7 linked regions of the Homo sapiens genome follow. The protein of the gene in region 7 purifies or fractionates together with the protein of the main gene of each other region. This does not show direct contact. Each region holds a gene or a part of one and is shown on either strand. Other genes may lie near its edges.

Region 1 (4,014 bases), about 47 Mb from region 7:
TGTAATCCCATCACTTTGAGAGGTGAGACCCTGTCTCAAAAAAAAAAAAGAAAGCAAAAGAAAAGGCATGGAAGGCCGGTGCAGGGCTCATGCCTGTAATCCCAGCCCTTCGGGAGGCAGAGGCAGGAGGATCTCTTGAATCCAGGAGTTTTAGACCAGCCTGGGCACTGTGACAACATCCTGATAAATAAATAAATTAGCCAGGTGTAGTGATGCACACCTGTAGTCCCAGCTACTCAGGAGGTTGAGGCAGGAGGATCATTTGAGCCCATGAGTTTGAGGTTACAGTGAGCTATGATTGTGCCACTGCACTCCAGCCTGAGCAACAGAGCTCAAAAAAAAAAAAAAAAAAAAAAAAAAAAAAAAAAGAGCATGGAAAGGCTGACTTGGGGTCTGCCTGGAATTCCCCCATTTTTCATTCCCAGCACAAACTAAGCTCCCATGTATCTGTCAAAAACTTAATAGTGTAACAAAAGTCTAGGGTTCTTTATCAGGGTTCTAAATAGAACATCAGGAAAAAAAACAGTTCTTGTGCCCTTGCCAAATCTAATACTTAATCCTTCAAGTTCTTTACAGAGGGTAGAAAAAGCTGGGGAAAAAGTAAGTAAATGGTGAAAGTCAGGGAACTTTCTATTTAGTACTAAATCAGGCTGGTTTCATCACACCATGTTCACTTGACAGATTAAGTGCTTCTTTCAACAAACAATACCACAATGTGTATGCCAACACAAAGACACCTCTATTAAGTCAACAATTTACCTTGACTGAGAAAGTCATATCAATGCTGACTATTGCACTTAGATGAGCCAGATGATAAATAGATGGCCCAACACAACCCATTCCCAATATTATAAAGACACAAGTGCTGGGCGAGATAAGTTAATGCCTGTAATCCCAGCTCTTTGAGAAGCTGAGGCAGAAGGATCACTTGAGCCCAGGAGTTCAGGTTATAGTGAGCTGTGATTACACCACTGCACTCCAATCTGGGCAACTGAGTGAGATCCTGTCTCTAAAAAAAAATTTTTTTTAAAAAGGGGTGCCAGTGTTAAGGAAAGTATGTAAAAGAGAGGGATGAGAAAAAAGAAAGTGAGAACTGGAAAAATGTGGGGAGATGGGAAGGGCCCGGCTAGAAATACAGAGTCAACTTTTTTTTGTTTAAAAAGTCTCAATCAACTACTAAAAAATATTACTGAATGAGGTACAAAACATTATTTTATACACGTTATTTTGAAATCATACTTACCAGCAGTTGTTTTCAGGAAGTGATGTGGATGACTATACTTGAATGAAGGATAACCAAAGAAACACACATAATTTGGCTTCAAAACATGAACATTACCACATGTTTGAAAATAGCGAACACAAATCTACAGATGAGAAAACAAAAAGTAAAAGCATTTATAAACAACCATACCGGCTTATCTCTAAGTATAAATTGAATTTCAATTCCATTCTAAAAGTAGAACCATTGTCACAATAGAAATATTATATCCTTAGATTTAGATTTGTTACATTTATGATCCTTACCCAAAATTCCTTCTGAAAGTAAAGACATTTTAACAGTGTATTCTGTATAAATACATCAGCTTATAGGTATGCTTAAGTCATTGGACTTCCTGAACTAAAACTACTAAAGAATTCTAAAGTAATAGTTAGCATCTAAAAACAATGAAAAACTTGTATAGTATGATACCCCAAAGTTTACTTATAGTAACTTATAGATGACTCTTTAGAATTAACTATTTTACATAGTACCTTAGTATAATATTATTTTAAAATCTCTTATAGAAATAAGTAGGCCCAAATGTATTCAACTCTATATATCAAAACCTAAGTGTCTGAAAGGTATTGTGTGTGTGTGTGTGTGTGTGTGTGTGTGTGTGTGTGTGTGTATTTGAGACATGGTCTCACTCTGTTGCCCAGGCTGGAGTGCAGTGGTGCGATCACAGTTCACTGAAGCCTTGACCTTCTAGGCTCAAGGGGTCCTCCTGCCTCAGCCTTCCAAGTATCTGGGACCACAGGCGCATGCTACCCCACCCAATTAATTTTGTTTATTATTTGTAGAGACAAGGTCTCAGTATGTTGCCCAGGCTGGACTTGAAGTCCTGAGCTCAAGCAATCCTCCCACCTCAGCCTCCCAAAGTGCTAGAATTACAGGTGCGAGCCACCATGCCAGGCCATAATATCTTATTTGGAAAGTTAATATTTCAATGCCATTAGGCCAGGCGCGGTGGCTCACGCCTGTAATCCCAGCACTTTGGGAGGCCAAGGTGGGCAGATCACGAGGTAGGGAGTTAAAGAGACCAGCCTGGCCGATATGGTGAAACCCTGTCTCTACTAACAATACAAAAGAATTAGCTGGGCTTGGTGGCATGCGCCTGTAGTCCCAGCTACTTGGGAGGCTGAGGCAGGAGAATCGCTTGAATGCGGGAGGCAGAGGTTGCAGTGAGCCGGGATCGAGCCACTGCACTCCAGCCTGGTGACAGAGCAAGACTCCATCTCAAAAAAAAAAAAATTTCAATGCTATTAATACTTAACTACATCATACTGTAAACATAAACTACAGAATTTATTTACTTATTTAATTTTAAAGCCCTGAGCTTACTTCTCTGCAGAAATTTCTAACCTTCTTAGTATAAGAATACTGATAAGTGAAACTTTTTCATGTATGTAACAGAGTCACTTTTACTTAAAAAAAAAAATCATGTACATTAGTGGTGATTAGCTCTTAACTTTTAAAGGCTATGTTATAATAAACATCATATAGTACAGTCATGTTTTAATACATATTTATAAACTAGAATTTTTGTTTTTTTCTGATAGCAAATATAAAAGTAAAAGTTTGGTTTACTGACAAGAACAATACATTTAAATTCTTATTTTTTTACTTTAAATTTCAAACTATTACTGATTTCTGAAGGCAAAGAAAAACTGAAGATCCCTTTCCTAAAACATAAATAATCTTAAATCATTCATCTTAACTTTAGAGATCACCCTAAATCGACTAGTCTTTATAATATCAACATTTTATTTTTACTAACATTAATATTCAGGAAATATAAAGCCTAACTAAAATAATTAAAATTGATAACTTAAAACCAGAAGACAATAAAAGAATTCTCTTTCCCAAACATTTCCATTTTGTTTGTCCTTGCTTTCTCCTTCAGCTCCCATAATCCTGACTCTTGGTCAACAATAAAATCAAAGGAGTGAATCAACCTCTGTTTCATCAGACATAAAACTTAGGGACAATAAAGGAAAGTTTTGAAGTATATAGATTCACCTTAATTTAAATAAAATTGTTCATATTTGTAAAACATTTGAAAGAAAATTAAACTACTAGAAGGTCTTACCTTCAACAACAACACAACTCGTATTGAACTATTCATGGGTCGGGGCAGCATAAACCACCACGCTTAACATTTATTGAGTGCCTCCCATGTGCTGAGTACTTTCTTTTCAGACAGGCCAGGCATGGTGGCTCTGGCCTGTAATCCCATCACTTTGGGAGGCTGAGGTGAGTGGATTGCTTGAGGTCAAGAGTTTGAGACCAGCCTGGTCAACATGACGAGACCCCCTCTCTACTAAAAATACAAAAATCAGCTGGACATGGTGGCACACGTAGTCCCAGCTACTTGGGAGGCTGAGGCACAAGAATCACTTGAACCTGGGAGGCGGAGGTTGCAATGAGCCAAGATCACACCACTGCACTTCAGCCTAGGTGACAGAGAGACCTTGTCTCCAAAAAAAAAAAAAAAAGAAAGAAAAAAAGAAAAATAGCCTTTTTAGACATCATCTTTTTTTCTTTTTTTTTTGAGATGGAGTTTCACTCTGTCACCCAGGCTGGAGTGCAGTGGCACGATCTCAGCTTACTGCAACCTCCGCCTCCCAGGTTCATGCGATTCTCGTGCCTCAGCCTCCCAAGTAGCTGGGACTACAGGCATGTGCCATCATGTCCAGCTAAACTTTTTTTGTGTGTATTTTAGTAGAGACGGGGTTTCATTATGTTGCCCA
Region 2 (4,555 bases), on a different chromosome or scaffold from region 7:
GCCGGGAGGGAGACGGTGGGAAGAACCCTCTTGCTAGCATTTAAGGAACAGCAGAAACTGGCAGAAGCCACTGTGGCCTGGTTCCAGAGGCCTCTGGGGGTGGATGATGTGGGCTGAGGCCTGGGGGATCAGTGGGACCTCAGTTGATAGGGCCTGGAAGTGTGGATTGCAGAATCGGATCTTTACGTAAGAGCAATGGGAAGCCCCAGAGGCAGGATGAGGCATGATCAGGTTTGGGTTTGAAAAGACCAGTAAGGCAAGTGTGCAAAGAACAGAGGGGAAGGAAGCAAGAGAGGACTGAGATCAGCTGGGAGCTCCTGCAGAGACTAGAGATATTAGTGGTCCAGGCAAGAGATTGTCAGTATTGCTCCCAGCCACGGAAAATTTGGCTGTTGTAGGTCTTTCATTGTGAAATGTAAACTTATTCTTGGGAATTAAGTATTCAAACAGTGAATGTGGTAGGCAGGGGCTGAAATGGTTCGTAACCTCTACCTGACTGCCAAGTGCCAGCCTCCCTTTCATGTCATGAAAGATACAAGAGAGAACAGGCTCCCAGGCCGTTCTACCCCCCTTTCAATCACACAACCAGTGTGTGACTGATTGTGTGATTGGAAAGGGGGTAGAGATAGAAGTAACTGGACTTGGGAAATATTTAAGCAGCAACAAAATGGAAAGTTATTTTGCAATTACAAGAATAAACTTTCAGTAAAACTGCTATTAAAGTCTAGATTTATCTAAGGGTAAATTTTGTGATATAGGGCTTGTAGGCCATATGAGAAAATTTTCTACCAGTAAAATAAAGTTTGAATTTGTTTTTATTTTGTTGTAACAAAGGCAATAAAGAGGGGAAGTCTCTCAAATATTTAAAAACTTTTATTTTTACTTTCAGAGAATTTGAAGGTATACAGATGAAATCTGACAAGACGTGAATTTATAATTCTAAAAATAATTTCACAGCAGAGAGAAAGCATATACCTAGATATGTACATATTTATTACAATATAAAGACATAAATGTATATTTCTGAAATATTCTAAAAATATAATGTAGGAAGAAATATTTATCAAATACACAGAATTATATACAGTATGCATTTAGGAAAAGCAGTAGTAAAAATATGCACAAATAAACCATCTGTAAACACAATTTTTAAGTCTTATAAGTATTGCATGCATTTCTGTGCATTTTACATTTATGAAATCATATTTTTCCTAGGAGTTCAAATCACAAAACAAATGTTATATAACAGATCTCTAACTTTTGCATGCTTTACACTTGTCCCATTTAATAGACAGAAAAATTATGGCATGGGAAATCATTTTATAATATTAAAGTCACACTGAATGTTTTTAAGCTGTGACTAAACTTTGAAACATTGCCCTGCACCACAGATCCTAAATCAAGTACTGCAAATATTAAAAAAATGACTGAGGCAAATTACCATTAGAACCCACACACACATACACGGACACACACACACAGACACACACACACATGCATGTCTGTGCTTCATATGCACATACACAATTTAAAAATTATTGCTTCATCTTTACCCTAATGCCATAAAGGAATCACATTTAAAAAATAAACAATTTTAAGGTCCTCTAACAAAATAATGCCCCAGTGAATCACTAGTCTTATAAGTTGTTTGACTTCGTTAAAGTCCTTTTAAAAATAGAGGTGTTCTCTAGTTTCCCAATAATGTTTTTATTTCAATGCAGGAAGAACGCAATTTCATGGGAGGCCTGATAACTTTAACCATCATTTAGCTTGGCTTACATTATTAAGCAGGGACATTTTCCTAAGTAGTACATTAAGCAGAGCTACAGTAAATGGATTGTCAGTATTACTCCCAGCCCCAGAAAATTTAGCTGTTGTAGGTCATTCATTGTGAAATGTAAACTTATTCTTGGGAATTAAAGATTCAAACAGTGAATGTGGTAGGCAGGGCCTGAAACGGTTTGTAACCTCTACCTGACTGACAAGTGCCAGCCTCCCTTTCATGTCATGGAAGATGCAAGACAGAACAGGCTCCCAGGCCATTCTAAGCACCTGAAGATGGTGCTGACACAGGTGAAGTGTAAACCAGCAGTGAACCCTGTAGAATGCCTTGGATCCCAGCACTCAGTCCGCTTCCCTGAGTTGGATATGATGTTAGCAAATACCACCATCTAGAAAGACAGTACAGCTTCTGGAACAATTTTGCAGAAGAAAAAGTATCAACACCTGGGCCTAAATATTCTTTATAAGCTGTTGTATGGTGTGGTGTTTGAAGTTTGCTTTCCGGTAACGTAGAAGCCATAAGCACCATTCTTGCAGAAAAGTTGAAATGGCTGTTTTGGTCTTGGTAAAAAAAAAAAAAAAAAAAAAAAAAAAAAAAAAAAAAAAAAAAAGGTATACCCTAATTGTATATCAAAGAAGTGTATTTAAACAAGACAAATTATTAGCCAAAGAAAAAATGCTAAAACTTAAAAGGTGTGGCTTACTGTGATAAACATGCATGCTCTTTGCTGAAGGCTGGGGTGTCACAATGCAGCTAGAATACTTTCCTTACCCTACTTGATTCAGTTCTGTTGGTTGGGATGCTCAGAATTTGACAAATTTCATAATAGCATCAGACACTTGGTGGAGGAATAATAATGTATTCATTTGGGCCTTGTTCAGAAATTTCATCTGTAATTGCATGTTTCTCTAAATAATCTACCAATAAGCAAATGCTCCTTAACTTGCCATTGGCAAACAGCATTTTTTTCTAGGAAAATCCTAGAAGGTGCTGCTAAAAGAACACAATGATAGAATCCGGGTTTAAACACCGACATGTCAGCCTATAAAGCCATATGTTACAAATGTCTTATTTCCACCACCAGGGGTGGTGGCTCACACTTGCAATCCCAGCACTTTGGGAGGCCGAGGCGGGTGGATCACGAGGTCAGGAGTTCAAGACCAGTCTGGCCAACATAATGAAACCCCATCTCTACTAAAAATACAAAAAATTAGCTGGGTGTGGTGGTGTGCACCTGCCTGTAATCCCAGCTACTCGGGAGGCTGAGGCAGAAGAATCGCATGAACCCAGGAGGCGGAGGTTGCAGTGAGCTGAGATTGCACCATTGCACTCCAGCCCAGGTGACAGTGTGAGACACTGTCTCAAAAAAAAAAAAAAAAAAAAAAATTAGGGCCTTCTTAGGCTAACTTTTGATCACTTCAATAGTTTTGAATTCATTGTAATGTCTATTAGGAGAACATAACTAGACTTACTAACTCTTAATTTCATTAAGGAAATTATTACTCAGGACGAGGCCAACATATGCTATTTGGCTTATGTTATTTAAAGGAAATAACTCAGTAGTATTGAAATAAATAGCACCTGGTTGGTATATGGACATGGCAAAAGTTGTGGAGGGAACATGAGAACTCCTCTATTGTCAGAAAAAGTATTGAATGGCATACTGCAGAAAAAATATTCTATTGTGTTCAATACAGGCTGATAAATATATACATTTATATTACATGTGGTTGCATAACACAAACCTAGACCCTAGGGCTAAATACAGTCCACCGCTTGTTTTTTATAAAATTTATCAGAACACAGCCTTTGTAGGCAGAATAACAGATCTCCTAAAATGTGAATGCCCTAATCCCTGGAACACGTGAATATACTACCTTATATGAAAAAAAGGGCTTTCCAGATGAAATTAAATTTATGAACTTGGAGATGGGAGACATGATCCTGGATAATATCTTGTCAGACAGAAGCAATGTAAGAAGAAAGAGAGATTCAAAGTGTGAGAGGGACTCAACCAACCATTGTTACTGGCTTTCAGTTGGGGAAGGTTTCATGAGCCAAGGAATATGGGAAATCTCTCAAAGTTGAGGATCGCCTTCAGCTGACAGCAGCAAAAAAATAAAGACTTCAGTCCTGTAACCATGAAGAACTAAATTCTGCCAACAACCAAACTAGCAAGAGAATAGATCCTCCTCTAGAACCTCCAGAAAGAGCCCCGACAACACGATAATTTTAGCCTGGAAGAGCCTCATCAGACTTCTGACCTATAGAACTGTAAGATAATAGATGTGTGTCGTGTAACTCACTAAGTTTTAGTAATTTGCGGTGGCAGCAATAGAAAGCTAGGACATCAGCTCACTCATTAGTTTACAAATTGCCTGTGGCTGCTTTCATGTTCCAAGGTAGTATTAAGAGGATGTGACAAAGACTGTATGGTCCATAAAACCTAAAATATTTGCCAACTGGCCCTTTACGGAAAAAGTTTGCCAACCCTTACTATTCACATGCAAAAACCATGAACAGCTGCTAGCATTTACTGAACACTTAATTGATGCCAGGCTCAGGAATAACTACTTGGTATTCATATTAAATTTTTGTGATACACTCTCTTTGGGTCATCATTTTACAAATGAAAAAAAAAAAGGAAGTAGAGAGTTTAGGGAACTGCTCAAGGTCACCCAGCAAGTTAGAGGTGAGCTGGGATTCAAACCCCAGTCTGGCTGACTTCCCAGCATAGCTCATCCCTCGTCATTCTCACTACCTTGCAGAGGA
Region 3 (4,014 bases), on a different chromosome or scaffold from region 7:
ATTCTCCCGCCTCAGCCTTCTGAGTAGCTGGGATTACAGGTGCCTGCCACCACGCCCGGCTAATTTTTGTATTTTTAGTAGAGATGGGGTTTCACCATGTTGGCCAGGATGGTCTCAAACTCCTGACCTCAGGTGATCCCCCTGCCTTGGCCTCCCAAAGTGCTGGGATTACAGGTGTAAGCCACCGCACCCGGCCACTTTCTTATAGTTCTTTAGACATATTTTCATTTAGATCTTTGAACATATTTGAAATAGTTAAAAATCTCTTTGTCTGCTGCCTGGGTTTTCTTAGAGACAGTTTCTATTGATTGCATTTTTTCCCCCTGTGTATGGGCCATACTTTATTGTTTCTTTGCATGTTTTATAACTTTTTGTTGTTGAAAACTGGACATTTTAAATAATGTGGCCACTCCGGAAATCAGATTGTTTCCCTTCCCAGGGTTTGCTGTTGTATTTTTGTTTAGTGACTTTTCTGAATTGATTCTGTAGTCTGTATTCTTTGTTGTTTGTGGCTACTGAAGTCTCTGCTTAGATAGCTTAGTGGTCAGGTAATGATTAAACAAATTTCTTTAAATTTCTGTTAAATTTCTTAAAATTCTGTTCTCACTGCCTGGAAGCAGTGAGTATCCCAGTTTTTGCTTTGGGGCTCTGTGTGCACGTTGGGATGTACCTATAACACTCTGCCAGGCATTCGATAACTCTGCCTTAACTTTCACTTCCTGCTATGCAGAACCTCAAGGTCAACCACAAGTAAGAGACATTCTTAGGTCTTTCCTGAGCATGTGCACAGCTTTGGGTATATGCACAGACCTGGGTATGTTCATGGCTTCCTAGATGCCCAGGAATATATTGGGGCTTTTCTAAGCCTCTGTGGACATCTTATTCCCCAGCTTTTCCTTTAAACCTTTTTGGTTAGCCTGTTGTTTTCTCCACCTGTTAATCACTGCCTCAGGAAGCCATGAAGTCAAACAGTTACCTCTATTTGTTTTCAACCGGTGCTCCTGGGGAAAAGGTTTTTTCACACTGGGTGAGTTCTAAGACAGCCTTGAAATAGGGCCTTCTAAGGAACTGTCAGACAGGTTGAATAATGCCAGTTCTTTTTTTTTTTTTTTTTCAGAGTCAAGCTTCTTTTTTTTTTATACTTTAAGTTCTAGGGTACATGTGCACAACGTGCAGGTTTGTTACATATGTATACATGTGCCATGATGGTGTGCTGCACCCATTAACTCATCATTTACATTAGGTATATCTCTTTTTTTTTTGAGATGGAGTCTTGCTTTGTCACCCAGGCTGGAGTGCACTGGCGCAATCTCAGCTCACTGCAAGCTCCACCTCCCGGGTTCACGCCATTCTCCTGCCTCAGCCTCCCGAGTAGCTGGGACTACAGGCGCCTGCCACCATGCCCGGCTAATTTTGTTTTTTTTTTTTTTTTGAGACGGAGTCTCGCTCTGTCACCCAGGCTGGAGTGCAGTGGTGCAATCTCGGCTCACTGCAAACTCCGCCTCCTGGGTTCACGCCATTCTCCTGCCTCAGCCTCTCCGAGTAGCTGGGACTACAGGCACCCGCCACCACGCCTGGCTAATTTTTTGTATTTTTAGTAGAGACGGCATTTCACCGTGGTCTCGATCTCCTGACCTCGTGATCCGCCCGCCTCGGCTTCCCAAAGTGCTGGGATTACAAGCGTGAGCCACTGCGCCCGGCCACGCCTGGCTAATTTTTTGTATTTTTAGTAGAGATGGGGTTTCACCATGTTAGCCAGGATGGTCTCGATCTCCTGACCTTGTGATCCGCCCTCCTCGGCCTCCCAAAGTGCTTGGATTACAGGCATGAGCCACCACGCCCGGCCTAGGTATATCTCTTAATGCTATCCCTCCCCGCTCCCCCCACCCCACGACAGGCCCTGGTGTGTGATGTTCCCCTTCCTGTGTCCAAGTGTTCTCATTGTTCAATTCCCACCTCTGAGTGAGAACATGCAGTGTTTGGTTTTCTGTCCTTGTGATAGTTTGCTGAGAATGATGGTTTCCAGCTTCATCCATGTCCCTACAAAGGATATGAACTCATCCTTTTTTATGGCTGCATAGTATTCCATGGTGTATATGTGCCACATTTTCTTAATCCAGTCTATCATTGTTGGGCATTTGGGTTGGTTCCAAGTCTTTGCTATTGTGAATAGTGCCTCAGTAAACATACGTGTGTGTGTGTCTTTATAGCAGCATGATTTATAATCCTTCGGGCATATACCCAGTAATGGGATGTCTGGGAATAATGCCAGTTCTTTGTAAGGCTTTGATGAACATCATCCCCATTCTGGAGTCAACTTGTCTCCTGAGGAGACTAGTTCCTTTAGTGGTTGTTGCTATTTAGAAACCACATCTGGGTGCTACATGTGCTTATTGCTACTGGAGTGTCATCTGCAGGCCCTACCAGGACGTGGGTAGGAAATATATATATGTCTATATATACACATAAACATGCATATATCTTTTTCTTTATATATTAAAAGCCCACACCAGTTATTCTAATCTATTCTAATACCACAGGGTTTGTTCTACTCTTTTGCCTTGCCATATTTGTTAACTCCTTTCTCTGATAGAAACCTGACCCCTCACCCTTAATGTATTTATTGATTTATTCAAATCTTTCCTGTATGTAATCAATCTTTTGAAAGCTCAGATTGAAAACTCCCAAAAAAGTGGGAGGAGGCAGTGTATAGGTAATTTTTTTTTTTTTTTTTGAGACGAAGTCTCGCTCTTGTCCCCTAGGCTGGAGTGCAATGGCGCGATCTCAGGTCACTGCAACCTCCGCCTCCCGGGTTCAAGCAATTCTCCTGCCTCAGCCTCCCAAGTAGCTGGGACTGCAGGTGCATGCCCTCATGCCCAGCTAATTTTTTTGTATTTTAGTAGAGATGGGGTTTCACTGTGTTGCCCAGGCTGGTTGCAAACTCCTGAGCTCAGGCAGTCCGCCTGCCTCGGCCTCCCAAAGTACTGGAGTAATTTTTTGTTATTGTTTGAGATGGGGTCTCACTCTGTCACCCAGGCTGGAGTACAGCAGCATGATCTCTGCCTACTGCAACCTCCGCCTCCCGGGTTCAAGCGATCCTTGTGCCTCAGCCTCCTGAGTAGCTGGGATTACCAGCATGCGCCACCATGCCCGGCTAATTTATATATATTATATATATATATATATTTTGTTTGTTTGTTTGTTTGTTTGTTTGTTTGTTTTTTGAGATGGAGTCTCGCTCTGTCGCCCAGGCTAGAGTGCAGTGGTGCGATCTCAGCTCACTGCAAGCTCCGCCTCCCAGGTTCACGCCATTCTCCTGCCTCAGCCTCCCGAGTAGCTGGGACTACAGGCGCCCACCACCACACCCGGCTAATTTTTTGTATTTTTAGTAGAGACGGGGTTTCACCATGTTAGCCAGGATGGTTTCAATCTCCTGACCTCGTGATCTGCCTGCCTCGGCCTCCCAGAGTGCTGGGATTACAGGCGTAAGCCACCGCGCCCGGCCTATATTATGTATTTTTTAGTACAGACGGGTTTCACTGTGTTGGCCAGGCTGGTCTCGAACTCCTGACCTCAAGTGATCCACCCACCTCAGCCTCACAAAGTGTTGGGATTACAGGCGTGAGCCACTATGCCCGGCCTGTATTCAGTAATTTTTGAAGGAATGGTTAAACATTCTCTTCTTCCCTCTGTGGAAATATCCTTTTGTATTATAGCATGCCACATTGTAACTGGAAGGAAAGTTTGTTACCGTAGTATCTGTTCTTTGGACTCCGGAATTGAGTTAGTATCCATGGCATTTGGAATATAGGCACCAGTGGTGACTTATAAAGTGGATTTCGGCTGGGCATGGTGGCTCATGCCTGTAATCCCAGCACTTTGGGAGGCTGAGGCTGAGGGATCACCTGAGGTTGGGAGTTCGAGACCAGCCTGACCAACATGGAGAAACCCCGTCTCTACTAAAAATACAAAATTAGCTGGGCGTGGTGGCGCATACCTGTAATCCCAGCTGCT
Region 4 (4,014 bases), on a different chromosome or scaffold from region 7:
AACCTACAGATTAAAAGAGACATAAGAGACACCAACAGCTGCATGTAGGAACTTACCTGGGCTCGGAGTCACACTGTAACATTTTTAAAAACATGCATGATCAAGAATATTTAACACCACTTAGATATTTAACTTAAAGAAAGTATAATTTTTAAGGTGTGATAATTATATTGTTGTCATGTTAATATATTTTGTTATTTTGTTTTTTTTTTACTTCCCTGTAAGATCTGAATGTTAGTATCTTTTGAAGGTACAGTTAATCCTTGAACAACTCAGGGGTTGGGGGAACCACCCCCAACACAATTGAAAATCTGCATATTATTTTTGACTCCCCCACAATTTACTCATAGCCTGATGCTGACCAGAATGTTTGCCAATAACATAAATGGTCGATTAACATATATTTTGCATGTTACAAGTATTATATATTGGATTCTTATAATAAAGTAAGCTAGAGGAAGAAAATGCAATGAAGGAAATCACAAGGAAGAGAAAATGAACTGACTTTTCATTAAGTGGAAGTGGATCGTCATAAAGGTCTTCATCCTCATCATCTTCACGTAGAGCAGGCTGAGGAGGAGGAAGGGAGGGTTGGTCCTGCTGTCTCAGGGGTGGCAGAGGCGAAAGAGAAGCCACTTAAGTGGACTCACAGTTCACACCTATGTTGTTCAAGGGTCAACTTACATACAGATAAATTTAGACTCAGTAACATGATGTCAAAGATTCACATCAACATTACCAGGGGCTGGGGGGCCGGGGGAGAGGCAGAGCAGAGCTGAGCCAGACTGGCCACTCCGACAACGATTAGCAGAGCTGAGCCGGACTGGCCACTCCGACAACCATTAGAGGAGCTGAGCCAGACTGGCCCCTCCGACAACTACTTCGGTTGGTAATTGTTGAAACTGACTGCCTGGATACATGGGAAAAGGGAATCATTAGACTATTCCCTCTGTTTCACAGAATTTATGTTTTTTAAAAAGCAATTAAAACATCCTGGCTTGGCAAATAATGTATTTGATGATGCTCACGATGGCAAATTTGGGAACTTGGAAAGGGGACATGCCTTGATTTCCTCTGACTCTGTAATGAGCCAGCCCCTTTCAGCTGCCCCTGGGAACAGTCAACGATTAAGTGCCAGGAAGACAAGGCACGAAGAACCGGGAAGCTATGGGAAGTAGAGCGCCGGCATCTGTGCATGTAGAGGGAAGGAACTCAACTCTACACCCCCAGCAGGCCTCTAAGCCCAGGGATGTGGGTCTACCTGCATGTCCCCTCCTGGAGGGCCAGCCCCGCCAAGCATGACACAACCCTCTGCCTCGGATGTTGCTCCTGGGGTTCCCCTGCTTAATGGCACAGCCTGAAACTTTGTGCTCCTTCTACAGCGTCCCCGCCCCAGAGTGGAAGCAGCAACAGGGCTCATCACAAAGTCACTCATTTCTGGAGACTAGAGGCCCATTCAATGCCACACAGTCACAGAGAACACACACGCAGTGGGAGGCAGGGCACCACTCTCCCTCACAGATATGTTTCGGAAAGGTTTATTTTTCAAGAGGTTCTGTCAGTTACAGATGACCATTGTGTAAAGCTTTTCCTTGAAGATCTATTTCCAGAAACACAGTAGGAAGTTAGTGGAAAATGAAGCCACATTAAAGCAGAGGCCTGAGCCGTGTGGCGCCGCCCAGGTTGTTCCACACGCTCCAGCAACACAAGCCTCTGCTGCCGGCCCGGCGGCTCGCCTTGTCGCAGCGCCTTACAGAGGGCTCTGGAGTGAGCGATGTTCTGCTCACCCCTGCTGCAGGCGATGCAACTAACCATACAAATTAAGCCTTATGGTGTAAATAATATGGTGTCTGCCTAAGTGACAACGTGTCACAAAGGCCGCACTAACAAACTGCCAGGCCCCGATCACGGCAGTCAAAGAGACCGGCCACCTCCCTGCAGGGAGGGCTGCTGACGCCTCGACACTGGCGACTGACGCGGGATGCCCTCCCGTCATTTAGTGTGCGCAGCTCAAGGGTGACCCTGACCGCCCATCACCAGCAAACGTCTGGCTCCAGGAGCTCAGTGCAACCGCAGGAATACAAAGAACCAGCAGTGAACACACCCAGCCACGACACAGAGCCCGGCTCCGGGTTCACACGGCCAAGCTCCGGCAGTGAACACACCCAGCCACAACACAAAGCCCCGCTCTGGGTTCAGACTCAAGGCTCCATTCTCACCTGCTTTCACCTGGGGAAAGGTGAGAAAAACTGAAGAGCGCTGCTGCACTTCACGAGGGAATCAAGGGAGAACCGTCACAGCAGCCCGCACGCCATCTCTTGTTAAGCACACGGCACATCATACACAGTGAAGTGTCCAACCTCTGTAAAATGAGTCCCTCGCCCGTCACTAATGTAAAAAATAGGAAACACTCTTTCCATTGACCTCTTGATGATCAAATGATTGGGCATAAAGATATGTAGGTTTAAATCTTTAGGAGTCAAAGTCCTATTGTGTCAAACTGAGATTACATCTATTAAAGATAAAACATAAAATATGTGATTCTGTGACACAGCATCAAAACCAACGCAGAAGGGAAAAGTCCACCAGCTGGATCATCGACACTGTAGAATACCGACCCCATTCATGGACATTTAAAATAAAAGTTTAAAATAAAGTAAAAGCTCAGTTCAATTATTTAGAACATCAGGCATTCTGAACATGAATGCCAATAATTATTTAAGCTAAACGTGTGTATACATGTCTATATAAGTATATAATTCTTAAATCACAGGCAAAACTGAAGTTTTCATTCAAATTAATTTTTAAACTAAGTAACTTTATAGAAAATGCTCTAAAAACCACAATTGAGCTGTCTGTACAACATGTTCAAACTTGCTTTGAGAATGTTGGAATCCAGTGACTAATTTTGCCAGTGCCTTGGAAGAGAAAGAACCACAAGACACAAAGACACAATAGAGAAGCAAAGACGAAGCTGGGGAGCTGCATGAGGGAGGAAATAAAGCCCATCTCGCCAGCTCACAAACAAAGCCACCAGCATGTGAACCTGGGGCTCGTGAATTCACAGTTCCAACTATTTTCCTCTGGGTCCTGGGATAAATAAACCTCACTTTATAACCATTATTTCTGACAGTCCAAGCCTTTCTAAAGGAAGCAAAGACCCACGGTTCTTATCCATCCAGAAGATTTCTTTTAAAATCCGATTGCCTTCACTCCACTATAAAGATGGCGTATTTGGGAGGGAAGCTCAGGAGGAGGAGCATGCAGAAGCGGGAAGCCACACAAAAGCTCTGGAGAGCAGCCATGGCGCACATCGCACCGCCCGCGTCTCAAACACCCCCTAAAGGACGCCCAGGTTGCTTCAAGACAAGAGAGACTCAGGCAAACCTCCCCTCTTAAACCCTCTAAGGATGAACCTGGAAGCAAGCACAGAGCTCCACCTCTGCCACCAACCAGATGACCTGCAAAGGCGGAGGGTGGAATTCCGAGGCCCCTCAATTCAATCTTCCTCTCACGGAGGACCTTCTCAGCCACCACTGTCTGGCTGGGGGCCTCACCCTAGCACCCATCCCCGACTCCCAGTCCTGTCTCCCACCTGGAGCTCCAGCGGCACCACAAGGGCACTTTCACAGCTCCCTCCTGGTGACGCCACCTCTTCCTCCTGCCCCCCAAGTCCTAGGAATAGTGGCTGCTTCCTGCAGCTACTGACCCCTGGGTACCTCAGCACTCCCTCTCAGCTCTCTGGTGGCATCCCTCCTGTGACCAACAGTGTGTGTGTGCACGCACGAGAGCCAACATGGTTCGGGTGGTGCTGCGCTGGCCTCAAGAGATGGCTCAATGTAGACGAAAGATGTCACAAGTTTCTTCCACTGCTGATCCGAGGAGTGCGCTTGTCCTGGGTGATAACACAAGTTACCACCACGGGTGTGCAGAGCCTCTGGAGGTGCCGCGTGGGCCCAGCCTCAGCCTCACTTGCTTCCCCACCCGAGTGTGCCCTGCCCTGCCGGCCTCTTG
Region 5 (4,014 bases), on a different chromosome or scaffold from region 7:
CATCACTGCCTCCGAAAGGCATGGCTCCCAAGGCACCATTTACTCCAATGCTTATTACCTTCCAGCAGCTTCTTCGGACCAGAAGGTCTAACTACAAATAGCAACCTCTTTCCCTTCTGCCCCCACAACTTGCACGCTTTGCTCTCCAACCTTACAATGTCTAGTTCATCCACCTCACACAGGAATCGAGGTGGCAATGTGGTGAACTTCCTGATGACTTCCAGAGTCAGGCTGCATGCTGAGGAAGACTGCATTCCAAGCAGTCAAGCTCAATTTGCTAGAGGAGACAGTAACCATCCACGGTGCCCACCTCACTTCCTCTCTTTTCAAAGAAAACTTTAGCCCAGTTGAAGAGTACATGTCAGCAAAAGCACTCGGCTCACCTGGAAGTGGCCGATCTTCTGGCCAAAGGCTTCCCTCACGTGCAGGTAGGGAATGGTGTGGTCCAGGACCGCTTGCATGAGCCTGTCAGAAAGGAGAAAGGCCCCGTGGGCACCTCCTCATCCCACCACCGGGTGTGGTGGCAAAATGCTAGCGTGGGAAGGCCAGAATCCCAGGGAGGAGAAAAGCAACTTCAGAAAGTCTTGCCACAGTTACGGCACTGACTGGCCAGAGGTGCAGGGGCGTGACAGCCCAGGTGTCGTTTCACAGCCGAGTAAGCCACCCTGCTCCTCAGGCCTTTTGTCTGTTACTTAATGATATTTCCCCACTGTGGGAAGAAATTCAACATGGGAAGAGGAGGTTCCTTTCATCTCCCAGGAGAGAGCAGGGCCAAGAGGCAGCTCCCTTTGGCCCCGCAAGGGGAAGGCTGCTGCTGCTCATGGTGGGTCACCTGCCGAGGAGGCCGACAGAGCCCAGCTTCCCTCAAGCCTCTCACACTTACCCAAGAGGCCCCCCGGCCAGCACCAGCCGCTCCAGGTCCAGCCCACTCATCAGCACGTAGACACCCTTATTCTCATGGCCCAGGATGTTGGCAGCTGCCAGGATAAGTGCTGGTCAGAGGGAGAGAGCTGTCCACAGCCTCCTCACTTTTATCAAAGGTACTAGATTTGGAAACATGGCTCTCAAGTAAGGCACTAAAATATGTCACTTGACCTTTATTCAACTAAGGTTCCAGGTGAAAGAAAAGGATCAAGTGAACCCCTTCCAGTCAGAAGTGGAGCTGCCAGGACTCCCACCCCATCCACGAGGCCAACCACAAAGGCTAGAGTTGTTAGATCTTTCCCTTCCCTCTCTGGACTCCCTTGGATGGGAAAGAAGAAAAGTTAATTGGTCTAGAAGTCACCCAATCCCTCCCTGACTCTTTCTACACAGGCACCTATAAAGAAACCAGAGAATTACTCTTTCCCCCAGGTGGAGTCAGCTCTGGTCCAATGTCACCTCCCTGCAGAGTAGTCCGTGAAAGCTTCTTTGTCCAGGAGACAGGCCATTCAGAGCTAGTGACAGAAGCTGCTGAGCACCTCTCCACCCAGTAAAGCCAGGAGACTGGATGGCCTTGGGAGGTGTGGGCAGGAAAACAGGTTGACACTACTGACCTGCCTTTAATGCTAGCTGAATTTTTTCCTGTCAACAAAGAAGGAGCTGCACAGCTCCCCCTCCCTGGATGCTCCCTGTAATTAAAGTACACTTTTTTGGGCTGTCAGTGATAGGCGTGGTATATGGCTGAGGCAGACAGCAAACCTAACTGTTGATCAAATCCATGCCCCTGGCCAGGCAAGGTGGCTCAGGCCTATAATCCTGGCACTTTGGGAGGCTGAGACAGGTGGATCACCTGAGGTCAGGAGTTCGAGAGCAGCCTGGCCAACATGGTGAAACCCCATCTGTCTCTACTAAAAATACAAAATTAGCTGGGCGGTGTGTGCCTGTCATCCCAGCTACTCAGAAGGCTGAGACAGGAGAATCACTTGAACCCAGGGGGCGGAGGTTGCAGTAAGCCAAGATCGCGCCATTGCACTCCAGCCCTGGGCAACAAGAGCGACACTCCATCTCAAAAAAACAAACAAAAAATTTAGCTGGGCAGGGTGGCGCATGCCTGTAATCCCAGCTACTCGGGAGGCTGAGGCAGGAGAATCACTGGAACCCAGGAGGTGGAGGCTGCCGTGAGCTGAGATCACGCCACTGCACTCTAGCCTGGGTGACAGAGCCAAGACTCCTTCTCAAAACAAACAAACAAACAAACAAACAAAAAAAACAAAAAAAAACCCCAAACAACAAATCCATGCCCCTGGTCTGGTTAGTACATGATGGCTGTGCTGGCTCTCCCACAGTGCTCCACCATGTCAGATTTCAGTTACACCTCAGGGGAGAAAATACTCATACTCAAGCAGAACTGCCTTCTCTCTACTGAGTCGGGATTCCATCAGTGGATTCAGATGTTTTGTTTTTTTTTCTTAGCATCATTAATGCTAAAAATGAATAACTCATTTTTAAAATATTTTACAAAAACGTGAGTTAATGAGTTACTCACATGCAGTGGATGGGCGAAAGTACAGGAAGACTGAAGGACATCAATGGGAAAGGGTAGGTCTGACCCTTCTCCTCCGGCTACTGAGTACAGACCCTATGCGGAGTGTGTGATGCCAGTTAGGCATGCCGCTGCAGGGCCCTGGCCAGGAAGGAGCGCTGTCCAGCAGCCCCAGCTCACAGCCTAGCCACATGTCACTGAAGCGCTAACAATGCCAAGCCTCTCTAACCCAGAGGCTTTCTCAACTTGAGAACAGCCAGATCAGCCTGGAAGGGGGTCAGGAGAGGGGCTCCCCGATTCCCGGTGCTACTTACCAGGAATCTTGCAGTCTTCAAAGATTAGCTCACAGGTGTTAGAGCCCCTCATCCCCAGCTTGTCCAGCTTCTTAGAGGTGCTAAAGCCAGGCATACCCTTTACAGGAAACAAAAGGTGGTCCTGGTTACAGATTAGCCCCAAGGGGGCCTGGTAAAGGAAAGGCCTCTGGGAAGAAGGCACTCACCTTCCTATTGAGTCCCTGTACCTGCACAGCATGGCAGCATCCTAGTCCCATGCTCCCCCCGGGACCTTCCGGTGCTAACGCCCCAGATTGATCCCAGCCTCCTCTGCCACTAGCTTGTGTTCTCCCCAGTTCTCATGGGGACACTTCTTTCTCAATGATATGCTCAGTTCCCTGAGCCCTCCCGACCCCCCTGGCCTTATTTCCCTCCCCCAGGGGACATTACTTCCAAGACACTGTCACCAGCCCGGTCAATTCCCTTATCCTCTGTTGTTCTCCTGTCTGTACCCAAAGGGATCCCACTAGGGCTGAACTGAGCCCTCTGTACTTTGACCTGGACTACTGGGTTGCAGCATGTTTTGGCAAGTGACCAGCAAAGTGCTGGCACATGCTGCCTTCAGCCTGTAATGAGGGTGGCATCACGCAACCTTGAGATTTCCAATCTCAGCCAGGTCCCTACTGCTCCAACCCTAGACAGCTACTTTCCCCCTCTCTATGGAGGGTACCGCAAACCTTTACAATACTCGCTCATGAAACTCTTGCCAACTCCCCCACTCGTGGCCCCAGCCTTCACAGGGCCCCTGGCTTCCTCCTCATGATCGTTAGGCAAGTGGTTCCTGCACCATCACCTGTAACCCATCCTTCTCTCTTCTGCCCCAGCTCACCATTGTGTTCTGCCCACTCATTCCCACACTTTTCAATTTCTCCCTCTATTTTCTTTTTTCTTCCCTTTTTTTTCCTTCTGACCAAAAAATCTGCTCAGTTCTCTCATTTCTAAAAACAAACCCAAACTCCTAACTTTTCATTGGAACTCCTGCTCTGCTTCCTTCTTGCTTCTGTTGTCAAGGCTGTTGCAGGGGCAGTCTCCACTTGCATCCCACCCACACCTCAGTCTCCCATGGCCACATTCATCAGATCCACCAATGGTACCCTGACCGTCATGTCCTGACCTCCTTTTAGTCCTCCCCTTTCTAGACCTCTTTGTGTGGCCTGGCGCTGAGGACGGCTCCACCGTCTTCAGAAGTGACCCATCTGCCCTGGACTTCCTGGACTT
Region 6 (4,014 bases), on a different chromosome or scaffold from region 7:
CAATATCTGACCAAGGAAGAATCCACAACTGAGGTTTCTCCAACCTCCCGCTCCTCCTCAACTGAGAGACGATGGCTCGTGTTTTAGAGCTCATTAGAATAGCTGATGCGAGAACTGGCCTTTTCTCCCTTTGCCCACTTGGTCTTGTGTCTGCCCTCTTCTGGACCCCCTCCCACACACACCAAGGGGTTTGTTTGCCTTCTCTACCCGGCTGGCTGACTATCTGTACCTCCCATTATCTGTCCCGAAAATCTCACCTAGTCAGGCCCGCCATGGAGAAATGGTAGCCAGGAACAGGTAAGTGTTAAGAATAGTAATAATGAGGAGACTCGCTTGAACCCGGGAGGCAGAGGTTGCAGTGAGCCGAGATCACACCATTGCACTCCAGTCTGGGCAACAAGCGCGAAACTCCGTCTCGGAAAAAAAAAAAAAAGAAGAGTGATAATAGCTAACATTATTTTTACTTGTGCTAGGCACTGTCCTCAGGGTGAAACATGGAATCATCTCATTTAAGCCCCACAAGAACAGTGAGATGGGAATTATCATGATGACTACTTGACAGAACCGTAAACTGAGGCTCACAGAGGCCACGTGATTTACCTGACGTCCCAGAGACAATCAGCAGCGGTGCTGAAAATTTGCAGCTGGGTCTGTCTGGCTCCCATGCACCTATAACCCCAGGGCCCCGGGGTCAGATTTCAGGATCCAGCACCTGAGACTGTTGCTGCTCCCCCTGTCACCAGCCTGTAGGGCATGCTGGGCAGACTGTGCTCCTGCTTGCAAATATTTGCTGCCCCTCCTACCCCGCTGATGTCAGGCATGTGCACGTGACAGGCTCTGGCCGCTGAAATGTGAATAAATGGAAGGCATCATTCCCAAGAAAGGTTTGTCTTTTGGAGACAGAGTCGTACTCTGTCACCCAGACTGGAGTGCAGTGGTGCGATCATGGCTCACTGCAGCCTCAACCTCCCAGACTCAAGTGATCCTCCTGCCTCAGCTTTCTGAGTAGCTGGGACTACAGGTGTGCACCACCACGCCTGGCTAATTTTTTAACTTTTCTTTTTAGTAGAGATGAAGTCTTGCTATGTTGCTCAGGCTGGTCTCAAACTCCTGAGCTCAAGTGATTCTCCCACCTCGGCCTCCCAAAGCGCTGGGATTAGACATGTGAGCCGCTGCACCTAGTCATTTTTTTTTCAACTTTTATTTACCAACAAAGTTTAGTCTCCATAAAGACTGTCAAAAACTGCCAATGTTGACTATATTTCAAGTCATCATGGTGGGGTAGTGGGAAAAGTTTTCAATCAGCAATAATCACATCTTGGGTAAACCTCACTGGCGACAACACTGACACTGCACAATCCCCTGGCAGCGTCAGGAGCCAATGTGAGCTTCACCATGACCTCTTTTCCCTCTGCCACAATGACTGATAATTGCCCCAGGCAGCAGCTGTACTAGCAGCCTGTGTCCCAGAATGAAGGCCGCATGGAGCCAAAGAATATACCCTGTGATGGGCATGAAGTGGGAACAGCAAGTCCATCTTTGGTGTCATAAGTCAGGAGATTTTGGGGTTGTCTGTGATCACAGCATGACCTGGCCCATCCTGATCTGGTCCATCCTTGAGTCCACCTTCTAAACTTTGGCTTATGTAAAAAACAACAGTCACAAAAGGGATCACATTGGATGTACTGTGCATTATACTAACTCACCTCTTTCACTCAGTATACTAACCTCAGTGGCACACACAGGCTCACCTGAAAAGTGAGGGATGAGAGGGAGGCAGCTTCACATGGCATGGGCCAGAGGCCAGCGCAGGCACAGGCAGGGCCAGAAGGGAAAGGAGTCTGCAGCCCCACAGCCTTGTGGAGCTGACCAGCCTGTGCTTCAGGGCTGAGGAAAGTTCAATAAGGGCTGACAACCTCCGAGGCTGCTGCCCAGCATGCGTGAGAGCTTCACATTCATTACGTTTACTCATACTCGACTCAAACGCAACCTCAAGGCCAATCCTGTCCCCCTTACCCAATAGCTGAACTTAATTCATCTGTAGTTCCCACGGCTTCAAACACTTGGTCATCTTTGGGTCTCCTTTCTCCTGTGAAGGTACTAGAAAACCCTGTGGAAAAAAATGTTTAGCCACCCAAATTAAGATTCTGTTTTCCTGATATGCTGTTTTTTTTTTTTTAAACTTTCAAAGATTTTAAAGAACTTTCTCTTTTTTGAACAGTCACTCTGTCATCCAGGCTGGAGTACAGCGGCGTGATCTTGGCTCACTGCAGCCTCCCCCTCCCAGGTTCAAGTGATTCTCATGCCTCAGTCTCCCAAGTAGCTGGGATTACAAGTGTGTACCACCATGCCCGGCTAATTTTTGTATTTTTAGTAGAGACGGGTTTTCGCCCATGTTGGCCGAGCTAGTCTTGAACTCCTGGTCTCAAGTGATTCACCCGCCTCAGCCTCCCAAAGTGCTGAGATTACAGGCATGAGCCACCGTACCACCCCTTAAAGAACTTTCAACTTGAAATATAGCATATACACAGAAAAGTGCTCAAATCGTAAGTGTGCAAGTTGGTGAATTACTACTAACTGAATATACCTCCTTGATCAGCACCTAGCTTCATAAACAGAACATGAGCAACACCCTGAAAGCCCCCATGTAACCCCTTTTAGTTGCCACTCCCCAAGGGTTAGCCACTATGCTCACTTCTTTCCTGATGTGCTTTTCAACTTAAAAACCACATACTAACCATCCTGATAAAGAAATACAACACGTTCTATATTTTATATCATATATACATTACCATTATATTTCACATGAAGTCAAAGTCCTCTGTGCCTCTGCCTAGCTCACAGTCCCGCCTTTCTCCCCCAACCTCTGAGAAAGTGAAAACTGCCCCTGACAGTTTGGAGCTGGCTTTCGCTATCGGGCAGGCTTTGGGGTTGCCAGGTGCCGGCCTGGCACTCACAGGTAGACTGTGGTGTTCTGCTGAACACAAACCATTTCACAGAAAACCATCAGACAGGCCACTCTATGACTATGACGGTTCGAGACCAAGACAAGGCCACTGCGGAAGAACGTCTGAGCACAGACGACTGTGTCCAAACTCCAAAAGATGACCAAACCTCCCCCTTCCCTGGCTAATGTGAGTGACTGCTGCATCTTTATCCATTACAGCGTTAGCACCTCTTTGTCCCTTCTGTCTTCTAGAAACAAATTATTAACATACCCAATTACAGGCCAGGTGCAGTGGCTCACACTGTAATCCCAGGACTTTGGGAGGCCATGGTGGGCAGATCACTTGAGGCCAGGAGTTCGAGACTAGCCTGGCCAACATGGCAAATCCCCGTCTCTACTAAAAACAGAAAAAATTAGTTGGGCATGGTGATGCATGCCTGTAGTCCCAGCTATTCGCGAGGCTGAGGCATAAGAATTGCTTGAACCCAGGAGGTTGCAGTGAGCTGAGATCGTGCCACTGCACTCCAGCCTGGGCAACAGAACTAGACCCTGTCTCAAAAAACAAAAAAAGATACCCAGTGACAGAAACAGCCCTGCTTCCTAACAGGATTCAATCCAGAACAAAGCCCCACTTCCTTGTAACCACCCAACACAAGCCCAACCCTACAATAAGTCCTTTCCAACATCCTCTTCCTTCTTTTTAATTGTGGTAACAGATGATACATAACAGAAATTTTACCATTTTGACCCTTCTTAAGTTTACCATTCAGTGGCACTGAGTATGTCCCGTACATGCTTTTATACTTTTACTATACAAGTATATATCCAAAAAACAATACATACTAGTGGTCTGCATGCTTTTGTACTACAAAAAATGGTATACTGTCTTGGTGCGGTAGCTCATGCCTCCTGTAATCCCAGCATTTTGGGAGGCTGAGCTGGGAGGATACCTTGAGCCTAGCAGTTCAAGACCAGCCTGGGCAACACAGCAAGACCTCATCTCTACAAAAAAAATTAAAAAGTATTAGCCAGGCATGGCGATGTGTGCCTGTTGTCCCAGATACTCA
Region 7 (4,014 bases):
TGGTTGCTACATACCTGGGCATAGCACATCCCTTCAATGGCCATCCCAGATGCAATGTCCACCTGCAAGAAAGACGTGCTCCCTGGATTGGTCTGACCTTGTCCATCTTCACCCACACTGGAAGCCAGCCCACCCTATTGCCTACAGACATCTATATGAGCAGAGATAGCTATGAGAAGGAATTTCCCTCCTAGAGAAGAAACACCATTCGTAACTATGACAAAACTGCTGGGAGAAACGAGACAGACTGAGACATTTTGCCAGAGAAGAGGAGTTCTCCTTCCCATCCGGCTGCCTCACCACGCTTCCTGTCACCCGTTAATTTCTGAACCTTTATGACCTGGGCCCTGGCAATTGCTCCAGCCTCTAGGGCCCACTGACTGGCACTTGAAAGCCTCATTCTAAGAGAAGTACCATGTGTGTGTGAACTTAATTTTCACAGCAAGGGTTAGTATCCCTATTCTACAGCTGAGAAACCTGAGGCATAGAAAGGTGAAATAATTTGTCAAAGTTCACAACAGTATGTGGAAGAGCAGGTCTTTGAACCCAGACAGCCTAGTGCCTCGAACTTGCACTCTCTCTTCTTCCCTCACTCTCATCTGGACGAGCTGCTTGCTTATCCTCCTCTGTGCCTTTGCCCATACTTTTCCTCTGGAATTTTTATCCTTCCCACAGTCCAACTGTAGAAAACAGTCTTTAACCGAGCACTGCCCAGTATGGTAGCCACTAGCCGCATGTGAATGTCAAGCACGTGAACTGTGATTAGCGTGAAGGAGAAACTGAACATTTTATTTTATTTATTTATTTATTTATTTTGAGACGGAGTCTCGCTCTGTCGCCCAGGCTGGAGTGCAGTGGTGCGATCTCGGCTCACTGCAAACTCCGCCTCCTGGGTTCAAGCGATTCGCCTGCCTCAGCCTCCTGAGTAGCTGGGACTACAGGTGCCTGCCACCACGCCTGGCTAATTTTTTGTATTTTTAGTAGAGACGGGGTTTCACTGTGTTAGCCAGGATGGTCTCGATCTCCTGACCTCGTGATCGCCCGCCTCAGCCTCCCAAAGTGCTGGGACTACAGGCATGAGCCACCGCGCCTGACCACATTTTACTTTTAATTTAAAAGCCACACATGGATATCATAATGGACCGCAAAGCTCTAACCTTTCTGGGGTGTCAGCGTGGTACCATTATCCTTGATTTGTGTCTGTATCTGCCCCCTCCCGGGGGCAGTGACCATGTTTAACTCATCCATCTGTATCCCAGTTCCCAGCTTTGTTCTGGATTCAGTGTGTGATGAGTGACTAGATGGGAGAGTTGAGGTGGACAGATGGATTAACTAGATGGGAGAGTTGAGGTGGACAGATGGATTAGCCACACCCAAGGCATCACCCCAAGCCCTGCCCTGAGGCCACATTACTGCCAGCACAAATCTTGCAGCATGGACTGGCAGCCACACAGACCCGGGTTCTTTCTACTCACTTCCTCTGAGACCTTGGGCAAATCATTTACCCTTTCTTAACCTCAATCTCATCCTCTCTCCAAGGGAGAAAGATGAGGATAGAATGTAAACAATAATACTGTCTGGCCAATTTGCAGATGTGTAAACTGACGTAGAGCACGAGGTCAGAGTTCAAGTCTGTTAGAAGAGTCCACTTCCTGAGTTTTTCCCAGCTGTGCTGTCTGAGCTCTGAAAGCACTGTGTCCCAGCCGCGACCAACTTTAGTGGACCCAAGTCCCAACCCAAAACCCTCTCACCTCCGTTCCTCGGTCAATGGCTACTTTGCCCAGCCGCACGGCAATGGGGGCCTAGGGAAAAGCAAAAAGTCTTGGTTGAGGAGGGCATCAAGGCTGATAGTTGCAGGTCTGAGGTGCACAGCTTTGTTTTAAAGGAGGGAGGCAGATGTCTGGGTCTGGTTCCAGCCATTCTGCTGACAGTTTCTTTAGCGTTAGTCCTATAACCTGTTAGCTGAGGTTCTTTTTCTATCATGAAAGAAGCCAGACTCTGATCCCTGAACACCTGGGTTTCTTGTTATTCAGCCCATCCTTCCAACATGCACAACATAACTAGTTTACAAAGTGCTTTCCTCCCCCACAGACTCATCTAATGGTGCTACCCACACTTCTAGGCTGGTGTCATCACTGATGACCCAGCTGTGATTTTACAGCTGTGAGATTGCAGTGCAGGGAGGTGAAGCACTTGGCTGTGTTTATCCAATCATTGGTGAGACTTGGATTGGACTCCCAACCACCTTTCCCACTTCCTCGACCTCATTTCAGCAAATGCCAGCCTCTGCGGTAAGGTTTTACCCCAGCAGAGTGAAACAAAGTCAGGGTTAGGAACTTGGGCTTTCAAGTCGACAGGGCTGTGTTGAAATCCTGGTCTGTGGGGCAGTGCAGAGGGGCGGGTGCATTTTAATACAGCCACATAGAAGCAACAGTGTCTGCTTTGTCACTGGCCTTGGTTCCACACCAGCCCTAGCACTCCAGTCTCAGCCCCACTTCCAGGCAAGGAGGAATTACTTCCTATATCATATTATTTGAAGTGTTTATAAAACTTTCTCAGGAAAAGTCTCAAAAAAAAAAAAAACTGGGAAAAAGAATTGCAATGCTTATGACAGATGAATTTCCTTGATTTACAAAAAAGTTAGTATAAAGTAACTTTTAAACCATTTACAAAAGAGTATGTAAAAGGTCCACCGGAAAAGAAGTACGAACGTGAAGGATGTCCAGCAGCTGCTACACGCTTGAAAGGCAAATCAAAACAGTGAGGTACTGTGCCCTTTCACCTCAGACCAGCAAATACTAAAATATCAATATGCCTACTACTGCCGAGACTGGGGAAACCAGTATTTACATACATTATTGATAGAAAAGTAAAAGAGTATGCCACAGGAGAGCAATTTGGCAAAAACTGGCAAAATGCTGGTGTGCCTTTATAAAACAAAACCAAACCTTTGTTTTGTTTTATAAACGAAGGTTTATAAATGTTTTGTTATATAAAATGAAGGTTTTGTTTTATATTCTTCCATGTTTGAATTCCTTACTATGCATATTTAAATTTTGTTTTTAAAATTTGTTAGAAACAGATTAGCCTCGAAAGATATTTCTTGTCCTCTAAGCCATTAAAAGGAATTTATTTAAATATGTAAGCATATGTGCATAATACACGTCCTTCCATATGCAATGGAAATTTCTGGAAGAGTATGGAAACAATAGTGATGATCTGGGGAGAGAGAGGGATTGGGAAATGAAGGGCTGTTTGGGTTTGCTTGTGACTGAAGGGTTACTGGGATATGGGACTTCCACTTTTAAAACTGGGGTAGTCACAGGTAAACCAGGACTAGCTGGTCATCTTGCCTTTGATTTTTACCTTATGCCCTTCTTACTCCTCTGTTCTTTTAGATTTGCTTGCCATATGTGTTATTATTTAGGTAACTACCCAATAAAGGAAGTAATCTTGGCCAGGTGCAGTGGCTCACGCCTGTAATCACAGGGCTTTGAGAGGCTGAGGCAGGAGGATTGCTTGCCCAAAGAGTTTGAGACCAGCCTGGGCATCATCATGAGATCCCATCTCTACAAAAAATAAAAAATTAGCTGGGCGTGGTGACTTGCACCTGTAGTCTCAGCTACTCAGTAGTCTTAGGTGGAAGGATCACTTGGGCCTGAGAGGTCAATGCTCCAGTGAGCTGTGATCATGCCACTGCACTCCAGCCTGGGCAAAAGAGCCAGACCCTGTCTCAAAAATAAATAAATAAATAAATAAATAAATAAATAAAGTAACCTTTTATTAAAGTTAAAAACGGTATGTACGTATGTTTGTGAGTGAAAACAGCCAAATTCTAGCCAAGTCAGTAGCTTGCACCTGTAGTCCCAGCTATTCAGAGGCTGAGGTGGAAGGACTGCTCAGGCCCAGGGCTTCAAGGCTGTGGTGAGCTATGATCGTGCCACTGCACTCCAGCCTGGGCAACAGAGCAAGATCCTGTCTCTAAAAAGAAAAGAAAAAAAACACAGCTGAATC

The links.
Region 1: the proteins of ECHDC2 (region 7) and DBT purify together in Homo sapiens (affinity purification with mass spectrometry; one large-scale study listed by BioGRID and IntAct). This does not show direct contact.
Region 2: the proteins of ECHDC2 (region 7) and CYP24A1 purify together in Homo sapiens (affinity purification with mass spectrometry; one large-scale study listed by BioGRID and IntAct). This does not show direct contact.
Region 3: the proteins of ECHDC2 (region 7) and UQCC1 purify together in Homo sapiens (affinity purification with mass spectrometry, with the first as the bait; one large-scale study listed by BioGRID). This does not show direct contact.
Region 4: the proteins of ECHDC2 (region 7) and NDUFS6 purify together in Homo sapiens (affinity purification with mass spectrometry; 3 studies listed by BioGRID and IntAct, with this or other methods). This does not show direct contact.
Region 5: the proteins of ECHDC2 (region 7) and IVD purify together in Homo sapiens (affinity purification with mass spectrometry; one large-scale study listed by BioGRID and IntAct). This does not show direct contact.
Region 6: the proteins of ECHDC2 (region 7) and MMAB purify together in Homo sapiens (affinity purification with mass spectrometry; one large-scale study listed by BioGRID and IntAct). This does not show direct contact.

What each region holds. Positions count from the first base shown.
Region 1 is NC_000001.11:100,239,518-100,243,531, forward strand, and holds part of DBT (lipoamide acyltransferase component of branched-chain alpha-keto acid dehydrogenase complex, mitochondrial isoform 1 precursor), read right to left. Parts: intron 1,368-4,014; coding exon 1,244-1,367; intron 1-1,243. UniProt on the Homo sapiens protein: The branched-chain alpha-keto dehydrogenase complex catalyzes the overall conversion of alpha-keto acids to acyl-CoA and CO(2).
Region 2 is NC_000020.11:54,152,591-54,157,145, forward strand, and holds the end of CYP24A1 (1,25-dihydroxyvitamin D(3) 24-hydroxylase, mitochondrial isoform 1 precursor), read right to left. Parts: exon of another isoform or gene 2,172-4,555; 3' UTR 856-2,171; downstream 1-855.
Region 3 is NC_000020.11:35,401,788-35,405,801, reverse strand, and holds part of UQCC1 (ubiquinol-cytochrome c reductase complex assembly factor 1), read left to right. Parts: intron 1-4,014. UniProt on the Homo sapiens protein: Required for the assembly of the ubiquinol-cytochrome c reductase complex (mitochondrial respiratory chain complex III or cytochrome b-c1 complex). Involved in cytochrome b translation and/or stability.
Region 4 is NC_000005.10:1,807,554-1,811,567, reverse strand, and holds part of NDUFS6 (NADH dehydrogenase [ubiquinone] iron-sulfur protein 6, mitochondrial precursor), read right to left. Parts: intron 1-4,014. UniProt on the Homo sapiens protein: Accessory subunit of the mitochondrial membrane respiratory chain NADH dehydrogenase (Complex I), that is believed not to be involved in catalysis. Complex I functions in the transfer of electrons from NADH to the respiratory chain.
Region 5 is NC_000015.10:40,411,852-40,415,865, reverse strand, and holds part of IVD (isovaleryl-CoA dehydrogenase, mitochondrial isoform 1 precursor), read right to left. Parts: intron 2,876-4,014; coding exon 2,779-2,875; intron 1,044-2,778; coding exon of another isoform or gene 997-1,043; exon of another isoform or gene 978-996; coding exon 884-977; intron 466-883; coding exon 384-465; intron 1-383.
Region 6 is NC_000012.12:109,566,754-109,570,767, forward strand, and holds part of MMAB (corrinoid adenosyltransferase MMAB precursor), read right to left. Parts: intron 2,111-4,014; coding exon 2,017-2,110; exon of another isoform or gene 1,550-2,016; coding exon of another isoform or gene 1,502-1,549; intron 824-1,501; exon of another isoform or gene 601-823; intron 415-600; exon of another isoform or gene 275-414; coding exon of another isoform or gene 258-274; intron 1-257. UniProt on the Homo sapiens protein: Converts cob(I)alamin to adenosylcobalamin (adenosylcob(III)alamin), a coenzyme for methylmalonyl-CoA mutase, therefore participates in the final step of the vitamin B12 conversion.
Region 7 is NC_000001.11:52,897,423-52,901,436, forward strand, and holds part of ECHDC2 (enoyl-CoA hydratase domain-containing protein 2, mitochondrial), read right to left. Parts: intron 1,803-4,014; coding exon 1,752-1,802; intron 1,333-1,751; coding exon of another isoform or gene 1,158-1,332; intron 63-1,157; coding exon 15-62; intron 1-14.